4 separate regions of the Homo sapiens genome follow, and regions 1, 2 and 4 are each linked to region 3. The links come from fine-mapping of genetic effects on gene expression. A gene starts in region 3. Each other region holds a variant in brackets. All regions are shown on one strand. Distances are from middle to middle. Region 1 overlaps FMNL3 (formin like 3). Region 2 overlaps FAM186B (family with sequence similarity 186 member B). Region 3 holds the start of FMNL3 (formin like 3). Region 4 overlaps FMNL3 (formin like 3).

What was found.
Region 1: its variant is fine-mapped to the expression of FMNL3 in testis (GTEx, PIP above 0.99).
Region 2: its variant is fine-mapped to the expression of FMNL3 in memory regulatory T cells (Schmiedel 2018, PIP 0.95).
Region 4: its variant is fine-mapped to the expression of FMNL3 in blood mononuclear cells (TOPMed, PIP above 0.99).

The regions. Positions count from the first base shown.
Region 1 is chr12:49,671,324-49,677,449 of GRCh38, forward strand. All of the region lies in intron 1 of FMNL3 (formin like 3), which reads right to left. Among named protein-coding and RNA genes, the nearest start is that of FMNL3, 33 kb to the right of the region's middle. RefSeq lists enhancers at 2,195-2,893, 3,117-3,206, 3,257-3,336. The variant C/T (reference allele first, on the strand shown) is at 2,531.
Region 2 is chr12:49,586,348-49,592,473 of GRCh38, forward strand. It overlaps FAM186B (family with sequence similarity 186 member B), which reads right to left. Exons shown (of 7, transcript NM_032130.3): 6 at 2,107-2,276; 7 at 1,158-1,405. The coding sequence ends at 1,258. Among named protein-coding and RNA genes, the nearest start is that of FAM186B, 16 kb to the right of the region's middle. The variant C/CA (reference allele first, on the strand shown) is at 3,631.
Region 3 is chr12:49,704,352-49,710,477 of GRCh38, forward strand. It overlaps FMNL3 (formin like 3), which reads right to left and starts at 3,054. Exons shown (of 26, transcript NM_175736.5): 1 at 2,704-3,054. The coding sequence starts at 2,829. It overlaps LOC124902929 (a long non-coding RNA gene), which reads left to right and starts at 3,375. Exons shown (of 3, transcript XR_007063299.1): 1 at 3,375-3,488. It also overlaps the pseudogene COX5BP5. RefSeq lists a silencer at 2,698-3,467 and an enhancer at 3,488-3,637.
Region 4 is chr12:49,659,638-49,665,763 of GRCh38, forward strand. It overlaps FMNL3 (formin like 3), which reads right to left. Exons shown (of 26, transcript NM_175736.5): 5 at 2,329-2,412. Among named protein-coding and RNA genes, the nearest start is that of PRPF40B, 39 kb to the left of the region's middle. RefSeq lists enhancers at 3,251-4,189, 3,763-3,922. The variant T/C (reference allele first, on the strand shown) is at 2,919.

The DNA of each region.
Region 1 (6,126 bases), 33 kb before region 3:
ACGGGTGGTAGAGGCATGAAGTAGGTCTGACCATAGCCATATCCTCCTGTCTTGAGCTTTGGGTGGCACTTTCTTGACAGTGGTCTCAGACTTCTCTGCTTCTTCTGGGCTGAAGTGTGATAGGGAAGGAGGTGGGTAAGGGGAATTCCCCCAAGCTCCAGCATTCTCAGAAGAAACGGGTCACTGGCTGCCAGTGGGAGCCACCTGCCAAGGGGGCATAAACCAGAGCCTGGCCTGGACAGTTCTCTTCCTGCTAGACAAGGGCATCAGGGCTTTTGCCTCTACCTGATAATGTGTGTGAGTCTGGCAGGGCTCCAATGTCCTAAGGAAGCCTCTCTGCCCTTAGGAATGACAACTTCCTGAGTTCCGGGGACAGCAAAGTAGCAAATTTGACACAGTTCCGGTCTCAGTCAAAAGTTTGTTTCCTTGACATTTTTTCTTCAGTGGTTCCACAGACACTGTAGGCTCCCAGAAGGCAGAAGCTGAGCTAAGTTCTTGCTAACTCCTCATTGAGACCCTTGCTGAGCAGAAAGGAGGCAGTGGCTGTCTTGGAAAGGAGAGGGCACTAAATGTGGGTGAAGTCAGAGGGCCCAAGATCAACTTTGGGCTCTTCAGAGTTATGGAGCCTTGGTGAACGCATCCATAAACGAGATAATCTCACTACTTCACAGGGTTTTAGCTGAGGATTAAAAGATAAATATTTTATGTCTGTATGTGTCTGGAACACTGTGGGTGTTCAACACAGTCCCCCTCACCGCCTGCTTCCTCCCGAAAATCTTGTGTCATGTTCTGATGTCCGAGGGACCTGCCCTCTTGCTTCTAGGCTGTCTCTCTCTCTCTGCCTCCATCCCACCTTCAGCAATTGCTTCGCAACACTCTGACTACAGAGCAATCCATTATCCCTTCACTGATCCTGCTCTGGCTTCCTCTAAGACTAGGCGCCAATTTTGGTATCATTATCTTGAGGGGTGGGGGACATGGCAGGAGACTCCAAGGAAGAAGTAAGGGAGGTAAGTCACAGCCAAAACAGTCACAATAGGAGATGTGAGGAAAAGGGGAAGATGAACTCAAACTGAAAGCAACTCTGGGACCGATTCCTAAATCACAGGGAACCAGCAAAACATCTAATAATAAAAATCTATAATGGGAAGAAGCCGAAAGGCATGGAGCTGGTGCTTCTCCAGCAAGGCTGCTCTGTTTGCCAGTTTGAGGCCAGGCAAATCTCCCTGCACAATGGGGTGCATGTGAGCAAGGCCTGGTCCCTCCAGCAAGGTTTCCTAACTCTCCACCTGACCCCTGACAGCCCCAGTCAAGCCAAGGAGGGAGGCAGCTCTGGTGGCAGAGGTTCCCTTCCCTTTCCCACTCTGCACCCCCAGCCCAGTGAGCCCCTCCTCATTTCCTTCCCACTGCAGGGGAAGGGAAATGCCGGTAGGGTTTGGAGTTTCCTTCAAAGCTGTGAGCTCTGCTCTGGGACTTGCCCCTACTCTGACAGTCTTCTTGAGCCAGGCCTGGGGAAAACCCAAAAAACAGAAATAGGAACCACCAAAAATTCCCAACTGTTTTTGTTGGTCCCTATCATGATAAATCTTAGGAACAGAGACCAAAATGGCATAGCTTCGAGAGACAGGGAGAGAGACGTTTGTAATGTTCCTGGGAAAGAAACTGGAGGCTTTAGGGAAGCTCCAGCAGGGGCTGTTTGTTTTGAGCAAATACAGAAAGTGAGAGGTAGTTTTATTAATGTTTTCCCTCTTGAACCACCTCCCACCAGGTTTCCTATGGCTGTCTTCTCCCAAGTGTGGTAGCCTCAGCCCCCACACTCAGCCCATGGGGACAGGGAGTCCTGAGAAACTGAATCTAGAACTGCCCCACAGATTAAATGAGTGCTGTCCTGGGCACCACACACTTCTCAACGTGCTGCTGAGCCCCTGACCGCAGGTCCAAGTCCTCCGTGGCATCCACAGATCAGCTCATTGAGCAGATGAGCAAAGATGGAAAGTGGCAAGTGGACACAAAATTTGGGAGTCCAGAAGACTGCTGAAGGAGGAGCTGTAACACAGTGTTCCCACCCCATGTTCCCATGTTCCCACTAGGATTCCCCTCACAAACCAACAGATCTGCCCCAAGCCAGTGGCAAAGCAGGCAACACAAGGCACAAAGGCCCATTACTAGCTGCCAAAAGGACAGAGTGTAAGGAACGGCCTCCACATGTCTCTACTGGTGGGCAGTAGGCACAGCTGTGGCCAGTTGGGCCCTGCTCCCAAAGGGCAAGAGCCCAAGGAGGTGGGAGGTACCAGCTCCTGCTGCCTTGGCCCCTTGGCGGCCACAGCCAGTCCTGCCGCAGTAGCAGCTCCTAGACAATGAGAGTTATTTTCAGCCAGCACTTTAACACAAGCCAGCTGGCCAGTGAGCAGGGCGGGAGTCCTCCTCCACCCAGCCCGCCCAGACGGCAGGCCAGCCGGCCCAGCCCATTGCCTACACTGCTGCTGCCGCCGCCTCCACGTCACTGTTTGTTTATCTCATTGTTCCAGCA[C/T]AGCTCCTTCTAACTCCCCTCAAAACTGCAATCCTTTGTAAAAGGGAATCAAAAAAAATCAGAGAGTTTGATCAAAGGTCCAAGAGCTAAAATTTTAAAAGGTCCAGACATGGGAAGTACGGCAGCCCCTCCAAACACCCACACTTTTCCCCAGCCTTGTGACTGGCTGGGGTAGCACAGGGGAGGAAATGGAACAGATGGATGGTCAGATCTCACTGCAGCTCTCACAGACCAAGGCCAAGCCTGGCTTCGCTGCCAACCTGGGGAGACAAAGCTCAAGACTGCTCTCCTTGCTTTGACTCCCTCCCATCCTCCTCTCCAGAGCTCGGGTTTGGAGAAGATAACTTGAAACAGACAGCCTGAAATGGGCTGAGTCAACTATGAAAGGTTCTGGGCAAAGATCTATATCCTGTGGCAGAAAGGAAATCACAGAACAGTCAATAACACTTGGCCAGAAGGACAGGCAACCCCCTGCCCTGCCTCGATAGAGTAGGGGCAAACACTTCAGCTGTACCACCCCACCACCACACCAAAGCACTCAAGAATATAAAGGATGAAAGGCAGCAGTTACCTCCCTGGACTCTAGGCCTCCAGCCCTGGTCCTGCCAAACTCTACAGCCTCCCCAGGGCAGCTCCCCATTACTACTCATCTCCTTCCTTATGTGACCCCACACACAGAAGCATGTGAGTACAAGTCTAGCTACACAGCTTTCTCTAGGCCCCAGCTGCCCTCTTAGACATCTGAACAAATTGCTTAGGTACCACATGACAAAAGGCATAAGAAAAATGGGTGCTCCTTAAGTGTCTGTAGTATCTTAGATCTGCCTTGCAGGTTTTGTTCAATTGAAGCTACCACTCTGGTGATGAGCTGCCAGGGAAAAGCCAGCTCTCACAGGCTCGGAACCATGTCTGGAGAACGTGCTTTTGTGGTCACTGAGGACTCTGTAACCAGAAATGACTTGCTGAGCAGTTACGGGCCAAGTCCCTGAGCAGCCTGGAAGAAAAAGAAATGGATTCACCAGATGTCTCTGGTTGAGCTCTGCAGTTCACACCAGGGAAGTCAGATGAAGGAGAGGTCCTAAAAGGCCAGCATCATTCAAACAAAGAGATGGCTTTTTCTAAATACAATTATACCCCCGGGGCCTCTTCTTCATCCTAGAGAATTCCTCCACCGGATCCTGAGAAGGCAAAGGATATTGGCCATGTCCCCAAAGTTGGTAAAGCCTCAAACTCTTTCCTCTGCCACACTGTTGGCCTCATACCTGACATGAGATAACCTCTGCAGGTAACCCTGAGGTCCCCAAACCCTGATTAAGGCCACCCTTTCTGGCCTGCCCAGTCAAAAAATATACAATCTCCGATAGGAGCTTCTGTCAGCGCTTCCCAACTGAGCACCCAGGCCCTAGTAAAAAGCTACTGCCACAGCAACTTGATCTGTCTATTGGCTCCTCGGCCCCTCCTCGTGGTTAGCCAGACCCACACACTCCCCAGTTACGCAGAATGGAAAGTATTCTGCTGGGGGCAGCTTATTTTCCAAAGCCAAGGAGTCTTGGGGCAGAGCCTCGCATTCTCCCTGCAGCCAACCAACGACCTCCCTCTCTTCATGAGGTTCTGTCCTCCCACCTGGGGAGCCCAATGGGCAGTGCTACCTCTCAGAGGACACAATATTTCTGGGGTCACAACTCCCTTTCTCCTCATACCAACAGGCCCAGTGAGTCTCCCTCCCAAGGTCTCTCATCTATATTTGCCCTTCCATTCCCACTGTCATCACCTGGGTGGGCCGTTACTGTTCACTTGCCGCCCTCTGGGATAAGCTTCTAGCTGGCATCCCTACTTCCAATACTTTCCTCCCTGCCATCCTGCACATGAATGAAACTTTCAAACTTCCAAGCACATAAGATAAATCATGTTTCTCCTTGGTTCAGAAATCTTTTTTGACTCCTTATCATTTATATGAGAAAACCTGAGCTCCTTGGCCTATTGTTCTTAGCATCTTACAGTAAGAGCTTCTGAGGTAAGATTCTCTCCAGGCTGGCCCCAGCTTCTCTGACCAGCCTCATCCTCTCCCACTCTATGGAATCTCTCTCTCCTGGGACAGCCACTCTTCCCATTCCTTAACCCTAGGATTTGCTTGTGATTGATGTTTCCCCAATCTGCTGACTCCCTACCTACTACCTACTACCTGACTTAAAATCCAGTAGCTCTATGACTACCCAACCTAAAATAATCAGCCCCTCTCTTGAGCTCCAAGCATAATCACATTTAAAGAATAAAATGGCAGAGACCTGCCTGTTATCCCCCAACCTCTTCTCCTCCTCCTCCTTAGTAGTGAACCTCCAACGCTGAGTTGGACACTTGACAGCCTAGAATTAATATGTTTGTCAGCTTCCCTTGCATTTAGGTATGGCTATGTGATCATGTGGGATGTAAACAGAAGTCGTGTGCACAACTTCTGAGAAATGTCATTAAAGGGAGGGAATATAACCTTCTTTTCTCCTTTCTGCTTCTAGCTAGTTGGAATATAGACAGTGGACGAACCTTCAACAACTATTTTAGACCATGAAGTGACCTTGGAAATGAAATCCACATGGATGAAATAACAAGAGAGAAAATACCAGGACACTGATACCATGGACCTTTAGCACAAATTGAATGTTTCATAGTGGGTTTTTTTTTTTTTTTTTTTTTTTTGCATATGCTTTCTCTATTCACAACTAGAAAGAACATAAACTCCTTAAGGGTAGGGGCCGTCTTATCCTTCTTTGAATCATGTGCAGGTGCTTAATAAATAAGTGATTGATCCTGCTCCTACCACTCCTACCACCAAGTCCCTTATTTGGTCTCCTGGTTAACTGGGGAAAGGGAGGATCCTTTAACTTTTTACCACTGTCCTTACTATTTCTGAGTTCTCTTATCTATAATCTGTCTTATGTCCTATAGCACAAATCACTTTATATATTGCTTTCCCCTCAGCAAACTCCTACTTTTCATTCTGAGTTTCAACTTCAGTTTATGCCATAATCTAAGCCACTTCCCTGCTCTTCTCTTTAACCAGACTCATCTTCTTATAACCTGCTAGAACACAGGCTTCTGAGAACAGGAATCACCATCAGCTTGTTTAGCACTTTAATAGGTGAGCAATAAAGATTGGGCAAATCGAATTTCTCCATTCGTATATTCCTTCTGTCCCTAAGTTTTCTACTCCATTGTACCCCAGAGAGATTACCTCCTTTCGAATTGCCAGCCATGCTCCTCCTCCAATTCACAACAGGTGAAATCTACCATCTCTAGCAAATCCTTCATAAATGACAGTAGTAACATCCACTCCCCTAACAGTGTCTCTGCACATTTACTAATTACTTTTAAATGTGTTCATGGAATTGTGACTTATGGTTAATGTTTCTTCACCTTTTCTTGGACAATCAATATATATGTTTATCATAAATCTCAGTGACCCTCCTAGAGGCACACATACAATGTAGTGGTTAAAGCACTAACTGTGAAGCCACACTACCTGGGTTTGAATCCTAGCTCCACCACTTACTAGCTGTGTGGCTTTGGGAGAGTTATTTAATCTCTGCAAGCCTCAGTTTCCT
Region 2 (6,126 bases), 120 kb before region 3:
TGCTGTTCAAAATGAATCCCGTTTCTCACTATCCCTCTATATTTTCAGAAAGTTACTGACGTCATGAGTGTATGGGCTCAAGTGGGGTGCATACCCCTGATATTTATATGCACATATCTCCGTGTGTGGAAAGAACAAAGGGGCTTGCCCGAGACTCAGAAGCTGGGCAGATCCCAGGCAGGGAAGGGATGCGGAGAGGAGAGACCCCACGATGGGGAGGTCTTTGGGTAAGTTTAACCAAATCTCTGCCAGGCCAGGCCCCAGTTGACCACTGGGTTACAGTGTTCTCCCACAGTGTTGTTTTGGTTATTCTCCATTCTGTTCGCTGTATCTAAATCAACAACCAACAGCAACACACATGCACATCCCCCTTGGAAACCCTCCAGGAATTGGAAACCAGGTTTCTGCACTGGGTGGGCTGGAATGATAGGACTCTCAGCTGGAATGCTGGCCCATTTCAGAGCGCAGGTGCGGCCAGGGATTCGCCCTCTTTGATGCTGCTATGCCTCCCTGTCTCACTGAGGTCTCCAGTTGGAGGATGGGAGAAGCACCAGTATCTTCAGGCTCTTGGCTCTGGTTAGGTCTAGACTGGAGGCATCAGGACCCTCTCCCCATTGGGGATCTGTAACTGACACAGGGCCAGGGTCACAGGAGGCAGATGGGATTGCTCATGTAGAGAGGGTCCTTAAAAGAGCCTTGAGCCTCCAGTAGTGACATCTACAAGCCCAGAGAGGCAAAGGAGAGCTAAGACTTCTAACCAGAAAAGCCTCTTGTTGGCCCCTGGAGTCCCACCTCTGTCCCCTCAGCTGTTCTTTCTAGGGACCGTTCTTGAAGATAGTAAGGAAAGGAAGTGACAGGCCCAGGCCCAAGGCTCAGGTTTCTCAGGCAGTCCAAGGGCTCCCTCATCTCTCCCTCCCTACACCTGGCTCCCCTGAGAACCACCCCCAAGGCTAGGGTGAGATGGGGCTCTTCAGAATTTATGTGCAGCCCAGGAGGCCAGTGTGAAGGAAAAGCCCCCTGGTGGCCTCTGAGACACTAAGGAAACCCTTCACCAGAACCGAAGTGCTGTTGGCATGGGGACCCCGCTTACAGCCGCCGAGCAAAGGAACCAGGTTAGCCTCTCTCTATCTGGTGTGGGATAGCAAATGAGGTCATTGTTAAAGCCTGGAGAGAGATTTATTGGGGAGAATCCACATTGACCATCAGCCTCGCACCTTACTGGGCCTTCAGGAAGTTCAGGCTTTTGTGGCAGGAGGACTACACGTCCAGTGTCAACAGCCGGGGAATATCTGGGTGTCCCCTCAGCTGGTCCCGGGGAAGGCTGGCAGGGGTCTTTTTTTCTATTGCGTAACTGGAGGAGGCCACCTCGGTCTTCCAGACAGCCTCCATCTGCTTCCCCTGTTGGCTGGGAGTGGGGAGTTTGGAGAATGTGAAAAGCAACAGAGAGAGATTGAGATGCAAGAGACTCTCCAGAGCCATCAGGCCCAAGTGAGCTTTGTCTCCTTCCCTTCTCAAATCGAGTGTGTCACTGCCCTCCTCATCTCCCCTCCAACACTGAGTCTGAATCTCACTTCCTTGGGGCTCCTCTGGCTGAGGAGCTGCTGGAAGAGGTTCCCAGGGCGGCCCCTGTCCTTCAAGGAACAGGCCCTGGGGCAGAAGCCCTGATCTAGGCCATGCAAGGGTAGGTGTGGACCAGGGTCCTTTTAGCGCCCCAGAGGTTCACAGTGTCTCCAGAGCCTGCAGGTCACATGGTGGGGAGGTTCAGGCTTGTTTATAGGACAGACCAACGGCAGATGCCAAATCGATGCTCAGGGTAGAAAGGTTATAAGTTTTCAGGTGTGGGTCCTCAGAGTCTTTCCGTCGCATAGTTTGAAATGCACTGGTCAGGCTAGTCCCTGAAGCCCACACACTATGACATACACCCCACCTGTGGGTCAGTGGCCAGCACTGGGGAGGGCAGCTGAGAAGACAGGCACTTTGCAACTCGTAGGGTGATATTGGCCTGTTGGTGCCCTCACTTCACTGCCCACCTCCCCAGGCTGGTCACCCCTGCTCCCTGCCTCTTCACCCATACAGCTGCTGCCCCCTCAGCTTCCCAGAACCTACCGGGCCATCTGCAGGGGCACACATGCCCGGTGCCTAGACAGAAAGGGCTGCTTGTAGGTGGGGCCACTGGGGCGGATGTGCCGGGGTGAGGCTGCAGGCAACTTGCATTTCTTTGGCTTTGGCGAGGTGACCTCAGGGATGTTCAGGTGAACGTTCCACTCCAGCTGGAGCTAGAGGAACCAGCAGAGAGGCATCAGGGAAACAGGAAGTTATCTCCTCTCTAGGTCGTGAGGAGGCTTTGTCTGTTTGTTGGTGCCCCTGCTGGACTCAGGGCTGAGTGGAGAGGGTAAGGCCCAGGGAATCCCTTCAATTAGAAACCCTGGGACCACAAGGTATCAGACCTTTGCTGGAAACTCCTTGAACTCTTTTTTGCTGTGTTAGTTCCTGTTTTCTCCTTTGTTGTGAGGAAGCTGGATAATGGGCAAAACAGCAAGGAAGAAAATGAAACCAGAGCAGCTGGAACCCATGAGAGCAGCTCCAGGCAGGGTTCATGGCAGGGGGCCAGGTTGTGCCTGGACTGCACTGGGTATCTTTTCGTCCAGCCCCAGCCCTGGCACTGGGTGAGGAGCTGGGGGAACCTTCACAGCCACTCAAAGAATTGTCATATCCCTTTCATTCTCAATCCCCAAACAAACAGCCAGTCAAGATGCCTCTAGGAGATTATCTGGACTGGTATAAGGTGATATGAAACCTCCATGGCCAAGGCTCTTCTGGCTGCCTGATGCCAGCCCTCACACCAATGCCTCAGCATGCTGCCTCCCCTAGACTCAGGCCACTGCCACTCAAGACTCGGGGGCAGGTGGTACCTCCTGACCCAACCCTAGGGCAGGTCCCAGCAGGCTCTGACTCACAACTTTGGGCTCCTCCAATCCCTCCAAGCTGCCCCTAGGGACCACGTCGGCACTTGCTGCTTTTCTGCTCCTGGCAGCCTGAGCCTCAGGTCTTGAGCTGAGGGCTGCTCATCCCAAAGCCAGTGTTGCAAATGAAGGAGTCTGGCAGGGAAAGATCCCATACTCATGGGTGGTGCAGAGAGCTATTCCTGCCATATGAAAGATGGATATGGATATAAACTCAATACTTGTATAATGGGGACAAAATTATTAATCGTCCCAAAGGGTATGAATTCTAATTTGCTGGGTTCCTGTTTTACATCTGTTGTAGAGAATCTAGAAACGGGCAAAACATCAGTGAAAAAAAAAAGACAAAGAAGTTAAATCTATATCTATATATCTATAATAAAGAATCAAGGCTGGGCGCGGTGGCTCATGCCTGTAATCCCAGCACTTTAGGAAGCCAAGTCAGGCAGATCATGAGGTCAAGAGATTGAGACCATCCTGGCCAACATGGTGAAACCCCGTCTCTACTAAAAATACAAAAATTAGCTGGGTGTGGTGGCGTGCATCTGTAGTCCCAGCTACTCGGAAGGCTGAGGCAGGAAAATTGCTTGAACGCAGGAGGCAGAAGTTGCAGTGAGCCGAGATCGCACCACTGCACTCCAGCCTGGCAATAGCGAGACTCTGTCTC[C/CA]AAAAAAAAAAAAAAAAAAAAAAAGTCAAAAGAGGAGAATATAGGAGTCTTTTATTCCATTATTCCCAAGTTTCAGCTGTTATCTCTTTGGCCTTTTTTTTTTAATTGTATACTATTTTGCATTTATTTTAAATGTCAGAAGTTTCAAGGATTCCAATATAAGTTTTTTTTTAGTAATTCAGTATATAGACAATTAGTGGTATACACATGGATCCATTATCCCTCAGTGGTGTATGGCCCATAGATTAGTAATCATTTATCTAAACAAAGAGAAAAGGAAGTTTGGGTGTCAAAGACTGTTTTGGAGTTTAAAGAGGTTTTCTGGATATGAGAGAATGGCAGAGGAGAGGAAAAAATAAGAAAATCTCATGATTGTGAATTATAAGTTGGACCCACTTTAGTGATTATGAGTGACCCAATTAAAGATTGGGGTTACTTTTTTATTATTTTTGGCAGGTGAGTGAGCATTATATCTCTGAATGGGATATAATGGATACAATGGCATAACCAGATCACATAACATCTTGGGATTTATTTGGGTTGTACTTGATGTATGAATGTTAAAACCAGGTCTATACATTTTGGATGGTTACTTTACTGAATTCTGCCAAGGTAAAGTGGGGTGGTGGGGAGGGGGTGAAAGAGTAAGGTTTCTGCTAGTGTTAGTTTTCAGAGGAAAAACACGAGGTCTCAGTAAGGACATGGAAAAGATGAGGATAGGCTCCAAGTGTAGAGATTAAGAGAGTGAGTGATACCTTCTCATTCTGTTGGCCTAAACCCATATGGTTCCTAACCCATAGGGCATGGTCCCCTGAGGGGCAATGGATTTTTTGCCAAGAGCCCAAGAATGTAAGTACATACTTAAAATTGTACAAAAATTGAATAAATAAAAAGTAAAACTACTAGTATATAGGAATTCTTGGAACTTTTAACATTTAAAATGAATCTTAATAGTATAGGATTTTTTTTGAGGAGATAAACTAGTGATAATGGAATAACAAGGACTAGTTTACTATTCTCCTGTAAACAACTAGTAGGCCAAACAGAATAGATGAAAAAATGATGTATACCCATTCAGACAACAGGCAGTGCAGGTCAATGATCCCCAAAAGGAATGAAACAAATGAGACAATGTCCAGGCCCCAGCACAGGGCAGGGAACCCAAACAGAAGCCAGCAGCCTTGCTGAGATGAGGAGACAGCATCTGGGTATCAGGGAAGCCAAGGTGACTAGAATTTGAAAACCAGAGTACCAGAGAGGAGGAAGCCACATGGCAAGGAATCTCCAAAGCTCTGCAGAGGGGTCCCGTTAAGTCTCTGTGCAGGCCTGGGAGGAAACCACCAAGGCTGGGGGAAGAATCACTGGGCAAGAACAGGCAGAACCATCCTCAGAGCTCATATATCCCTGGGAAGAGTTTGTGTTTACATCTGTAAAATACCGAAAGAAAAAGCTGCCCACCTAGAATTCTACATCCAGCAAAAACATCTTTCAAAACTGAAAGCTGAATAAACCTTTTCAGACACCAAAGCTGAGAGGATTCATCACCAGCAGATAAGCAGTGTGAGAAATGTTAAAGGAATCCTTCAGGCAGAAGGAAAATGATACCCAAAATACATTTGGATCTACACAAAAGAGTAAGGAGCACTGGAAATGTTAAGTGTGGGGGTAAATAGATTATTCTTTTCCCTTTGCTTAAGGGAAAAGTAATAACAATGTACAGTTGTCCCTTGCTATCCGTGGGGTATTGGCTCCAGGACTCCTCACAGGCACCAAAATTTGTGGATGCTCACATGCTTATATAAAATGGTGCAGTGTTTGCATATCACCCACCCACATCCTCCTGTATATATTAAATGGTCTCTAGATTACTTATAATACCTAATATAATATAAACACTATCTAAGTAGTTGTTATACTGTTTAGGGAATAACAAGAAAAAAAAGTCTGTTCATGTTCAGCACAGACACAACCATCTATTTTTTTCTCCGAATATTTTTGATCTGTGGTTGATTGAATCCACAGATGCAGAACCCATAGATACAGAGGGCCAACTGCATTAGGGGATTTATAAGTTACATAGAGACAAAATGTATGACAACAGTAGGACAAAGGCCGGGAGGGAAGAAATAGATGTATACTATTGTAAGGTTCTTACACATGAAATAATATTATTTGAAAGTAGACTATGATAAGTTAAAGATTTATATTGTAAACCCTAGAGTGCAGTGGCTCACGCCTGTAATCCCAGCACTTTGGGAGGCCGAGGTGGGCAGAGCACATGATCAGGAGTTCGAGACCAGCCTGACCAACATGGTGAAACCCAGTCTCTACTAAAAATACAAAAATTAGCTGGGCGTGGTGGTGTGCACCTATAATCTCAGCTACTCAGGTGGCTGAGGCAGGAGAATCTCTTGAACCTGGGAGTTGGAGGTTGCAGTGAGCCGAGATCATGCCACTGCACTCTAGCCTGGGCAACAGAGTGAGACTCTGTCTCAA
Region 3 (6,126 bases):
CAATCTAGGAAAGAAAAAGGTGAGAAAGGAACAGTTTATCTGACTGTTTCACACCATCAACAAAAATAAGCTAATCTGGCCAGGCACAGTGGCTCATGCCTGTAATCCCAGCACTTTGGGAGGCCAAGGCGGGTGGATCACCTGAGGTCAGGAGTTCGAGACCAGCCTGGCCAACATGGCGAAACCCCATCTCTACTAAAAACACAAAAATTAGCCAGGCTTAGTGGCACGCGCCTGTAATCCCAGCTACTGGGGAGGCTGAAGCAGGAGAACTGCTTGAACCCGGGAGGCTGAGTTTGCAGTGAGCTGAGATCGTGCTGCCGCACTCCAGCCTGGATGACAGAGCCAAACTCCATCTCAAAAAAAAAAAAAAAAAAAAAAAAAAGAAGCTAATCTATAATCTATATTGAGTACTTACTGGGTGCCAAGCACCTTATATACAGGGGCTCACCTAATTCTCACAATCTCACCAGAACAGGATTACCTCCATTTTACAGATGAGGAAGAAGTCTAGGCTCAGAGAAGTTAAGATACTTGCTAAGCCAGAGTCCTTGATTTTTCTACTACACTATGCTTCTCCTGACTGTTCAGGAAATACCCCTAAGCCTGTACCTGGGTCAAACACCTGACTCAGTCAGTACTGTTCCCAAAGCATGGTAGAAAGGGTACCTTTCAGAACAGTGGACACAGGGACACTTAAGAGCCCCCAGAGAAGAACTCAAATCCCCAAGAAGGGATGATTTCCCTGTATTGGAAAACTGAGGTGAAATCCCGTCTCCTGAGACAACTAACTAGCTCTGGCCTGCCCTGTTCCAACCCTTCATCAGCAGCAGCTCAGGCACACAGAAACAAGACCAAAACAAAAGGCATGAGGAAACAAATCAAAATTTTATACAGAAAGGAAGGCATGCAAGTGGGTGGTCCAGTCCCCCATTTGACCTGGGTTCTCCTGGTGCTCTGGTGTCCTGGTTAACTAGGACATCACGTGCATTTTGTGAATATTAAGCCATTAGTTTGCTAACTAAACGAAATGGTCAACCAAGGGCCAATGAGAACATGATGGATTCTGGTTCTGAGCTCTCACAAAAAATGGCCTGGCAGCTCCCACCTAAGGCAGCCTCCCACCCAATCCACCTCACCCCATCCCTTTCTCCCCAGTTTCTATAGCTAACTTGTGTCAGCTTGCTGGGGATTTTCACACCCCCACCAGAGTGCAGATCCCCTCCCACTCTTTTCCCCAACAGTTGGGCTCTTGTTCTCAAGGCCACTAAGTCCCAGTCTCTCCTCCTCAGCCTGTGAGATGGTCACAGCACATTGGTAATCACTGACTCACCCGATCCCCCGAGGAGGCTGGGGGAAATGCAGAGGGCCACAGGATGTATGGCCCACATCCCTTTGGCCCTTCGCAGAGCTGGCGGGCAGAGAGGTGCCAGCGACACCACTTCCCCTTGGAACACTGTGGACCCTCTTTGAGCCAGCTCTGGTGCCAGTGGGCTGATGTCAGATTCTCTACCATCGGAGAGGCCAAGATCTCTAGACAGCTCCACTGTTGCCAACAGATCTAATCTCCTTATTCCAAGGCAGATGAAATCCAATAAGGCTGCTAAGTCCACAACTTATCCCTCCTGATGGGCAGAGGCAAAGGCAGAGTCGGCCATACCAACAATAACGCCAGAATTATTACTGCTTCTTAGAAAACTCTTTGGGGAAGTGAGAACTATTTCCCCAAATTTCTCAAAGATTAACCCCGGTTTACCAATGTTTTCGCTCTGCAAAACTTCATTTTCAGCGCAAACATATTTTCTGGCTCCTTCCCGGTGATACCAGCTCAGAACCTCTCGCTTCATAGAGCCACTGACATCAATGTCCAATTCCCACACCAAAGAAGAATCCCAAAGTCAGCTCTAAAAACCCATTTATACAGACCGTTTGAAACCCACAGAAAGACTAAAAAGCACAGGCTAAACAACACAAACCAGTCACTATGGCTTAACGTGAAAAGGGGGGGAGGAGGCGGGATGGTTTGTGTATTGTTTCACTTGGAGAAATACCCCAGTGAAATGGTTTATCCACATGTTCAGCCTTTCAGGCAAATCCACTCTAACTTAGCAGGATGCCTGCAGGCCGTTCTGAAAATAAGCAGAATGGCATACTCTTTATTCCACCCCCTTCAGGAGCTGCCAGCCGCCTCCCCATCCCCCTCTCCCCCCAAACATCTGGTCTGGGCTGGGAGTGGGACCCACTCCCTGGGAAGCCTCCATGTTCGCAGGAGAGGCGGTGTCCCCACTCAGGGAAGCCTGCTGAGGAGCGAGCCGGCCGCGCTTCTGAATTCCCCCCACCCGCGAGAGGCTCCGGGCTGAGAATGCTAGGGACGGGGAGCCTGGCGAAGAAGCGGGGAAACGGGAAAAGGGCAGCAGAAGGGGGAGGAAGAAGGAGGGAGAAGCCTGGTTCCTAGGACGGTCCCGAACTGGGGACTTCTCCTAAGGGTCCAGCGGTGGAGGCGTCGGTCCCGAGATCCCCGACGGGGCTGTCCGGGCCGGCCAGCGGCTGCTCAGAGGTTCCTGGGAAGACACTGGAGGCCGGGATCCGTTCGGGACCCCGACTGAAAGGGTGGGCGGGACGGGGGCCCAGCACAAAGTCCCAGCCCGGGCGTCGGGACCTGAGGGGCGGTACGCGGGGGAAGGGGCTGGGCTCAGCTCTCACCAGCACCAGGGCGAACCTTTCCTCCAGCTCACAGGGCTCAGGCATCGGCATCTTGCCGGGCGGCAGCAACAACGGGACAGAGGGGGGCTCTCCCGGGACCCCCTCGGCGCTCTCCAGGTTGCCCATCGCGGCGGGGCCCCCTCAGGGGCCTCGGCCCCCCACCTCCACGCTCCGGAGCTTTCGGCTCCGCGGCTCCGACCAGGCTCCTCCCTCAGCGCCGGCTCCCCGAGTCCCGACTCCTCGGCCCCGTCGAGGGCGCCGGGGGTTCCCTGGAGTCCCGCTGGCGGGGGCGCGCGGCGAGGGCGGAGGCAGCGTAGCGGACAGCCGCACCGAAGCAAGGCGGACGGAGGCGGCCGGCTCTTGCTCACACCCGCCGCCTCGCCGCGCTCGGCGCGCCGCCCGGGCGCTGCCCCTCCCCGCCCCCCGCGCTCTTTCCCTTCCCCCGCCAACCTCGCTTCCTCCCACCCACACCCGGCCGAGACTCGGGCTTCCCCCGCGAGCGCCGACTGCAGCCCGCGCGACGCGCGCCCCATTCATGCAGGCCCCGCCTCCCGCCCAGAGGCCTCACAGGCGGCCCGGCCCGCCCCACCTGCGCCCGATTGACGGCCGCGTCTGCCAATCACAGCGCCTCCCGCCCTTGACGGCCTCGTGCCGGGCGCCGAGCGCTCCCTGGCGGCCTCAGCCGGCATCGAATCACCGCGGTTCCCAGAGGGCGTGAGGGGCTGGCGTGGACACACCGGGAATGGACCGTACCCTTTTTCAAAAGGAACTCATGATGTATACAAGTAAGTAAAATATTATACAAGGCATGGCGTACAAAACTAACTACAAGAGAAGTAGAAACAAGCAGGATACTCAGAAGAGGGAGAGAGATAGTACCTGTTAAGAGTCGGGGTGAGGGAGATCATAGTTGGACCAGGCATTGAGGGATGAGGAAGCCCTTACCCGACAGAGGCAGGGGAAAAAACGTTTGGGAGGAGAGAAGCTTAACCATCTGGCTGCGTGTGAAAATGGAGAGGCGGGAGAAGAACGCTGTTCTGGGCTCAGTCGGCGGCTGGGTCGTTGACATTTGCGGTGGAAATTTGTTGTCTAGCCGCCATCTTCTTCCAGTGAGAGCACCCCCTTTTCTTTTAGGAAACCACCTCTCCCCTCTTCTCAGTCTAAATGGAGCTGAATTTTATCCCCAGTTCCAAAGGACCGCATGACCCAGGCCCAGTCAGTCACAACATTTTCCTCCTCTACCCATGGACACTGTTTTAGGGATTGTCACTTGACCCAAGCCCAGACAATATGATATATCCAAGGCTTTCTCTGAAACAATCAGGAAAGAGGCACTCACTCTCTCTCCATTTAGGCTGCAAAATTATTAGAATGTAAACCTGCAGCCGCTGGTGGCCGTCTTATCATCACCTGTAACACATCAAGCCTGCTTGAGAATGAAGCCAGCGCAGAGGAGAGAAAAGCTATGAGACAGGACAAAATTCTAATGACATGCCAAGAACCTGGATCTAACCATGCCTGAAGTTATCACCTAGATTTTTAATTCATTTATTCAACAAATATTTATTTTAGAAAGTTTATTCTATGCCAGATACTATTCTGGGCATTGAAGGTACATCTGCGAACAAACAGGATATACATTGTGTCCTCTTGGAATTCACAATCTGTGTAGAAGGAAAGGTAGACAATAAACTAGACGAGTAAAATGTATAGATGTTAGTGATCAGTGTTAATAAAAATAAAACTGAAAGGTGATAGAGATGGAAGAGGCATTAAGATTTTAAATAGAGTTGCTTACTTGGGAGGCTGAGGCAGGAGGATCAATTGAAACTAGGAGGTTGAGGCTGTAGTGAGCCATGTTCATGGCACTCCACTCTAGCCTGGGTGACAGGGTGAGGCTCTGTCTCAATAAATAAATAAACACAGCTGTTGCTTGTCACAGGCATGATGGCTTCAAGGTTAATTTTCAGAGCTGGAGCGCTAGCCGCATAGGCCTGAGGGCTTACAGTCCCAATGGGGTGGTTGCAGTGTGCTTCATGGCATCTGGAGGTGGCGTTCCTACTGATGACAAGCAGATGACTGGGCTGGAGAGGGAGTTCATGACAGCCATGTATGAGATTGGACCCATACAATATATTACCCCCAAAGGCAGCTTCAGGCACCAGGGAAGACCCTAACAGCTCCCTCCATCACCAAGATAATAGTGAGCTGCATCGGTGAAGAGGACAACAGTGCTGTCAACTGGTTCTGGCTGCACAAAGGCGAGACCCAGTGATGCTCTAACTATGAACCCATTACAAGCTGATGTCCCACAAGTTGGCCCAGTGAGCCCTGGCACTAATTGCTCAAAATGTGCTGTAAAGTATCTTCTCTCCAATAAAGACTAGTCATTGCATTGGCTCCTTCTTCCCCTCCCTCATAATAAATATTTTAAATAGGATGATCAAGGAAGGACTCACTAATAAGATAGCATTTGGATAAAGATCTGAAGGATGCAAGGAAATAAGCTATGTGGCTATCTAGGGAAGAATTATCCAGACAAAGGGAATGGCAAGTGCATACTATCTCTGATGTATTAGAAGAACAGCAAAGATGCCAGTGTAGCTGGAGTGCAATGAGCAAGGAAAAGGGTAGTGAAAGATGAAGTCAGAAAGGTAACCAGAAGCCATATATTGTGTAGGATATTGTAGGCTATTGTGTGAGGACTTCGGTTTTCTCTAAGTAGGATAGGTAGCCATTGGAGGATTTTGAGTAGAGGAGTGGTATGATCTAACATGTTTTGTAACAGGGATCACTCTGGCTCTTGCATTGAAAACAAACCAATAGAAGTATGGACAGGGAGACTAGTTAGCAGGCTAGTGCAATCATTTGGGTGAGAGATGGTTTGAACCAGGGTGGTAACTGTACCGGTGGAAAGAAATGGTCAGATTCCTTATTAAAGACTTGAAAGTAAAGCTGATGGAATTTCCTGATAGTTTGAATGTGGAGGGTGAATGAAAGATAACTGCAAAGTATTTGACTTGAGCAACAAAGATGGTGGAGTTTTCACTAATTGAAATGGGGGAAGTGATAGGAGGAGTAGGTTTGGTGAGGGGGAACTGGAAAGGGAAGGTCAGGAACAAGTTTGGGCCATGTTGAGTTTGATTTGCCCTTTGGACATCCAAGTAAAGATATCCACTAAGCAATTGGATATAAATGAGTTTGCTCTTCAGACTCATATATGTCTTATTGCGATTGCACCCCGCTGGGACTGCAAGCCCTCAAAGCCTTCATGGCCAGCGTTCCAGCTGTGCAAAGTAACCTTGAAGCCATCATGCCTGCGACAAGCAGCAGCTCTACTTATTAATTTATGCAATTTGGCAATGTAAATTTGGAAATCATCGTCATATAGATGCTATTAAAGCTAGTAAATTCTTTTTCTTT
Region 4 (6,126 bases), 45 kb before region 3:
CTCCTGGGCTCAAGCAATCTCTCATCTTGGCCTCCCAAAGCTCTGGGATTACATGTGTGAGCCACTGCACCCAGCGACCGTCAGCAGTTTGTCAATGTGGCCAGGACAAGGAAGATGGCCAAGATCACAAACTCACAGGGACTCCTCTCTTATCATCCTCACTTCAGGATATACCCCTCTGAGAAACAGTCCCTCTCCTCCTTCTTGTCCTCTTCCTCCATGTAGGTCATTAAAGACTAAGGGAGCATCTCTTACAGGTTCTTCTCCCCCAAGAAGCATTCTGCTCAGACATGGGGTCAAAGGCACAGAGGTTGAGGCTTTCTGGAATAGGAAGGGATATTTACAGACGTCAGAATGTTCCAAAGGAAGTGGGAGCAGGCTTTAGTGTCCTCATGATCAGGAGGTGTTTAATGGGGCTCTCAAGTAGACATCAGAGGAACCTCCTGACAGGGAAACAGCTTGCTGATTCCATCAGTAACACTGTATCCTCTTGTACTGGTATATGCAGTTTACAAACAATTATCTTCACTCCAACTCTATTTAGCCTCACCCTTTCCCTCTCAATCCTTCCTAAAACACACATTCTCTCCCCCACACAAAGTCCTTCTTTTTTAAAAACAGAGTCAAAGGTATTGCCATGGACACTACAATACTGAGGTTCCAGGGTACTCTTGGTTTAGGGTGGCTGGAATTTGTTTGCTTTTCAAGTAAGAGAGAGAGGCTTATTTGGAAAAATGAGCTACATTTTTTACTATAAAAGCTCTGAATTTTTTAAGAAAAATTATTTCACCAAATGTTTTTCATTTCTTTCTATAAAAAGAATTTTTTTTAGGAGATAAGAGAATCACACGAGGTATGACTTCTGCTGAGACAAGAATGCAGTGGGCCACTCTTGGTTTTAACAGGATAACCTGGAAAAGGTGAGAGGCGCCGAACATAGAAGAAGCATCAAATTCCTAAGGGGATGACACTGAAGACCTGCTGGACAAAGAAGAATGGCCAAGGGGGCAAGGACAGTAGTTAGAAAAGTGGAAGCTGGTTGGGAGCAGCGGCTCACGCCTGCAATCCCAGCACTTTGGAAGGCCAAAGCAGGGTGGATCGCTTGAGCCCAGGAGTTCGAGGCCAGCCTGGGCAGCATGGTGAAACCCCGTCCCTACTAAAAACACACAAAAAGTTAGCTAAGCATGGTGGTATACACCTGTGGTCCCAGCTACTCAGCAAGGCTGAGGCAGGACTGAGGCAGGAAGACTGCTTGAGCCCAGGAAGTCAAGCCTGTGGTGAGCCAAGATCGTGCCACTGCACTCCAGCCTGGGCAACTGAGCAAGACCCTGTCTCAAAAAAATGTCAGGGCTAAGTCCTAGGATGGAGGAGTTTCCTGGGACGCTGGGGAAAACTAGGGAAAGTTATGGGCAAACTGGGAAGATTGGTCTCCCTAAGGCTGACCTGTCTTAGGTGTAAGTCTAAATGTGTTGGTCATTATGTTTATTATGTAATTTCATATATTCAGGTAATTGTGGTAGGGTATGCCACTTTAAATAATAATAATGAAATTAACAATAGATCTGCTACCACAATACAGACCCGGTATGTTCCAAATAATACTAAGTGCTTTAACACACGTTATCATCTAATTTTCACAACAACCCTGGAATGTGGATCTCCTTTCATAGAAGAAGACACAAACTTGCTTTGAAGTCACACAGATAGTAAATAACAGAACTGAAACCCAAACCCAGCTTTGTCTGACTCAAGAGCTCTCATTCCTTCCACTATACCAGGCCGCCTTTTCTGTGCTAACTCACTTCTGGCTGCCTCCAAGCCCCCCTGCCTGCTAGAAAAAGACTCCTGAATACTTCATTTTTCTATCCAGGTCAAAAGGAACTCACTGTTCCTGGGTTCTTCAACAATGACCTGGAGTAACCTTCTCACATCTGGAAACCCAAAGTTGCTTCTGGAAGACTCAACTCTGCAAAGATGAATGGATCCCACCAAGGCATCTCTACCAGAAGCCAGGACATTTCCCTGGATTGCTCACAGCTTGGCATTTGGATGCCTTGGGTTCTGATTCCAAGCTCCCTTTCCATCTCTCTGTCCTGTTCTCCAAAATGCATCTTATCTTCTACTCCAGCCAAGTGCCATTCTTCACTGATCCCCAGACATCTCCGGGCTTGCCTGCCTACTTCCACACCACTGCTTGGGCTACTCCTTCCTGTCCAGGATTCCCATTTCCATCTTCATTGTTGAACTCTCACCCTTCCTTATCAAAGTAGAATGGAACTATGTCCTCCCCCAACTGGTCCCCAACTTCAGCCCCGGGGTGGTACTCACATGACAGAACACTGGGCAAAGGACAGGTAATCCACCAGTACATCCAGGCCTTTGTTTTCATCATTCAGAAATTCCCGCACCCACCTGCAGATAAAGGAAACACAGTGGAAGGGGTCTGCTAAAAGTGGGTCAAGGATGAGGGGGGTGACATGCCTCTGACCCAACACCTCCTCCTCCTGGAACCCAGCACCAGGCTAAGAAAATTCTGAAGATCAAAACCCATGACAGACCCATCCACGGTCATGGACTTCCCCTAGGCAGGGAAGTCAGGGATGGGGAAAGTTCAGGCCCTTCTAATGCCACTTGCTTTATCGTGAAGGTGCTTCAGACAAACAAGCTCTCAGGTACTCCCTCCTTAAGGGCCAGACCCTGGCTCAATTATTTTCTGCATCCCTCCACATGTCCTTGCTCAGTGTTTGTTGGAAGAATTTAGGAAGCATCAAGAGCATTTACTACAGGCCCGTGTGCAGAGTTGTGCTTGACCGAAGCCAGCAAGTCTCCAACTTGACTGAAGCCTCAGTCAAGACCCCAGCAGGAAGGGTCAAGGAGAGCTCTGGAACAGAGGCATCCTGGGGCAAAGCACTCTCTAC[T/C]AAGTTTAAGGAGAGGAGTTTTAGAAAGCAGTGAGCAGAGATGTATAGAAGTTCTGTATTTAGTCATGTTGAGTTTGGCAGAACCAGAAAAAGCATGGGAGATGAACAGGAACTCAAGGAACTCCAGGATGTCTATGACCACTCAGAGTCAACCTGAGTACGTGGGTCCCCCTCAGCCAGGAAGGTAGACAACAAAGCACCTAAGGACCATATCCCAGGGCATTATTTTCCCTTCTGCTTTCAGTTCTTTTGGGCTGAGATATTCCTGGAATGAAAGTCAAGGGCAAATCTAGGGAACTGTTATATGACAGGTTCATTCCATAGCAGAAACATAAAACGCTCAGGATGAAACCCTAATCTAGAGTGCTCTACTCCTTCAGAATTTCTGGGGGTCTTTATAGGAAAGCTCCTCCCAAACTGCCCTGCGGGGCCTTTCTCCCCAACAGCTGGAAAACCAGTGCCATGTTGGCCAGCCACACCCCAAACTACAGAGAGACTCTGGAGCTACAACACCAGGCCCAGCTGAGATTAGGCAGCAGGCTCTGGCTGAAGCTGACTGACACCGGAGCTGCCTGAAGTTAGCTTCCTCTCTGGGGGCCAACAGGCCTCCCGTTTCCTGTCTGTCTGCTCTCCAGCTCCCCACCCCCTTCTCATTTCCTGTCTGAGTCTATACTGCTATTTCGGGATCTTGACACTTTGAGGAGAGGTTAAAGGGTGCTTAGGCAAGGCACAGAAACCAATACAAACCAGGGAAAGAGGAGCTGGAGAGGCTCTGGAATCCCACTTCCCAGCCTATCCCTCTCCAGAACCTGAGTTCCCATCTGCTGCTCCTGCACACCCAACTTCTGCAAGCCCTGGGGCTGATCAGGCTGTGACCAAAGCAGGATCCTCCTCTCCCCACCTTGCCCTGGGTTCCTGCCACCCTGAAGCACCCACAATCTGACAAACTCTTCCTGCCCAGAAATCCAGGAAGGATCTTGGTCCTTCCACATAACTCTACCCAGAGAAGCCGCAGTTCAGATGGCAGGCATGCCTAAAATGCCAGGCACTGAGCTATTCCCTGGGAACAAAGGACCAGGTCCAGGACCTCTAACTTGTGTGCCAACTGCCAAGAGGCCCCAGGCCTGGGAACCACGCTGCTTTGGACATAGCTCCTGGCCAGCAGCCAGAGGGGCAGGCACCAGGTAGAGGGGGCAGGCAGCAGGGACTATCATAAACTGCTCTGTGGCCTTCTCCCAATAAAAGCACACCCCTATCCTCAGATGACTACAGCAAGACTTAATCAAGAAAACAAGGCTAGGTACTAGTGGCTCCACTTTGGGATCCTCAAGGAGGATCACTTGAGCCTAGGAGTTCAAGACCAGCCTAGGCAACTATCTCTACTAAATTTTTTTTTTTAAGTGGCCAGGCAGGCCAGGCACGGTGGCTCACATCTGTAATCCCAGCACTTTGAAAGGCCAAGACAGGCAGATCACTTGAGCCCATGAGTTTGAGACCGCCTGACCAACATGGTGAAACCTCATCTCTACTAAAAATACAAAAATTAGCTGGGCGTGGTGGTACACGCCTGTAGTCCCAGCTATTCGGAAGGCAGAGGCAGAATGGCTTGAGCCTGGGAGGCAGAGGTTGCAGTGAGCCAAGATGGCGCCTGGGCGACAGAGCTAGACTCCATCTCAAAATATAAATAAATAAATAAAATAAAATGGCCAGGCATGGGTGTGTGCCTGTGCTCCCAGCTACTTGGGAGGCTGGGATAGGAGGATCACTTGAGCCCTGGAAGTTGAGGCTGCAGTGAGTCATGATCATGTCACTGTACTTTATCCTGGGCAACAGAGCAAGACCCTGTCTTAAAAAACAAATAAACAAAAAGAAGACAGAAGGGCTGAGAGGGACAGAAGGGACCTATGGAGGAATGCGGAGTGGTAGGGGGCTCAGGGTGGCAGGTAGCACTCAGGGTTGCCATCGGTGTCCTTCTTGCCCTCACACACAGGGGTACTAAGCAGCCCCTGCCACTTTGTCCTTCAGTCAGTGAAGTCAGTGAAGGACTGACCAAACAAAGGAAGAGGCTTGGCCACACCTTTCTCAGCAGCTTGACTTTCAATGTCTGATTCACAGATGAGGTACAGAAGCCATACTCTGGCCACCAGAGCACAGTTACTGAGGCCAGGAACCATCCCTTTCCTGTTCTCTCCTGTGCTGTTTCCCTTGTGATTGCTGCTACAGCTGGCTACACACAGGTGTCCCCTCCCTCTAAAGAATCCTGGGAAGGCTTGCCCTGGGGGCGGATGAGGGCTGCTGCTACAACAGGAGGGGAAAGGCTAATGATGTCATTTGGCTGTCTCTAACCCCCTGTCAGGAAGCCTGGGCACCCCACCCCCACCTGGGCCTCCACTGCTCACTCATAAGCACTGGACATTTGTGCCAGGCCCTCCCATCAGGTCTATACCCCTGCCTGCAGTTCTACATCACGTGTCCCTCACTGTCCTTTTGCATAAGCACACATACGCACACATATACACACTTTCTCTCTCTCTCTCTCACTTTCATATACCTTTGCATATACCTTTGCTGATTACAGTTTCGTAACACTGAGGCCAATACCCTCTTTCACTGTACCTTACACATTAGCTCTTTGCTTGTTCAGCAATTCCTGGTTTCCCACTCAGGGACTGGAAAAAAAAAAAAAAGACTCACACAGTTCCTAAGGGCCCTATCAATGTGTTGGGGACACCAGGGTCTGTGAATATAGAAAACATTCAGCTCCTGCCCCCAGTGCCTTACATCTTTCCTGGTGCTTAAGGAAGCTTCTGCTCATGAACTAAGATTATCTTCTCCCAAACAAGCAAATAAACTTCCAGGCACCAAAAAGTCCAAATAGTCACCGAATGGGAACTAGGTCTCAGCTACCCAATATAGTATGTTCTCCCCACCCTCAGCCTTCTCTGAGCCTCGCTTGGCCCAGCACCAGGCCACAGGCAGACTCCAGTCTCAACTGCTGTGGGAATGTCTTCCACTCAAAGCCACAGGCAGAGGACCCCAGGAGAGGCCTCAAGCTTGCCAGAAACATCTAGTCAGCAGCTGGCAGAGCTGAGGGGGTAGAAAAGCCAGTAAAGAACCAGTCCAAAGCTCTGGGGAGCCAGAAGCCATTCAAGGGGCAACTCTGCCCCATGGCAGGGAAGATGAACAGGAACACCATCCTCAGAGGACA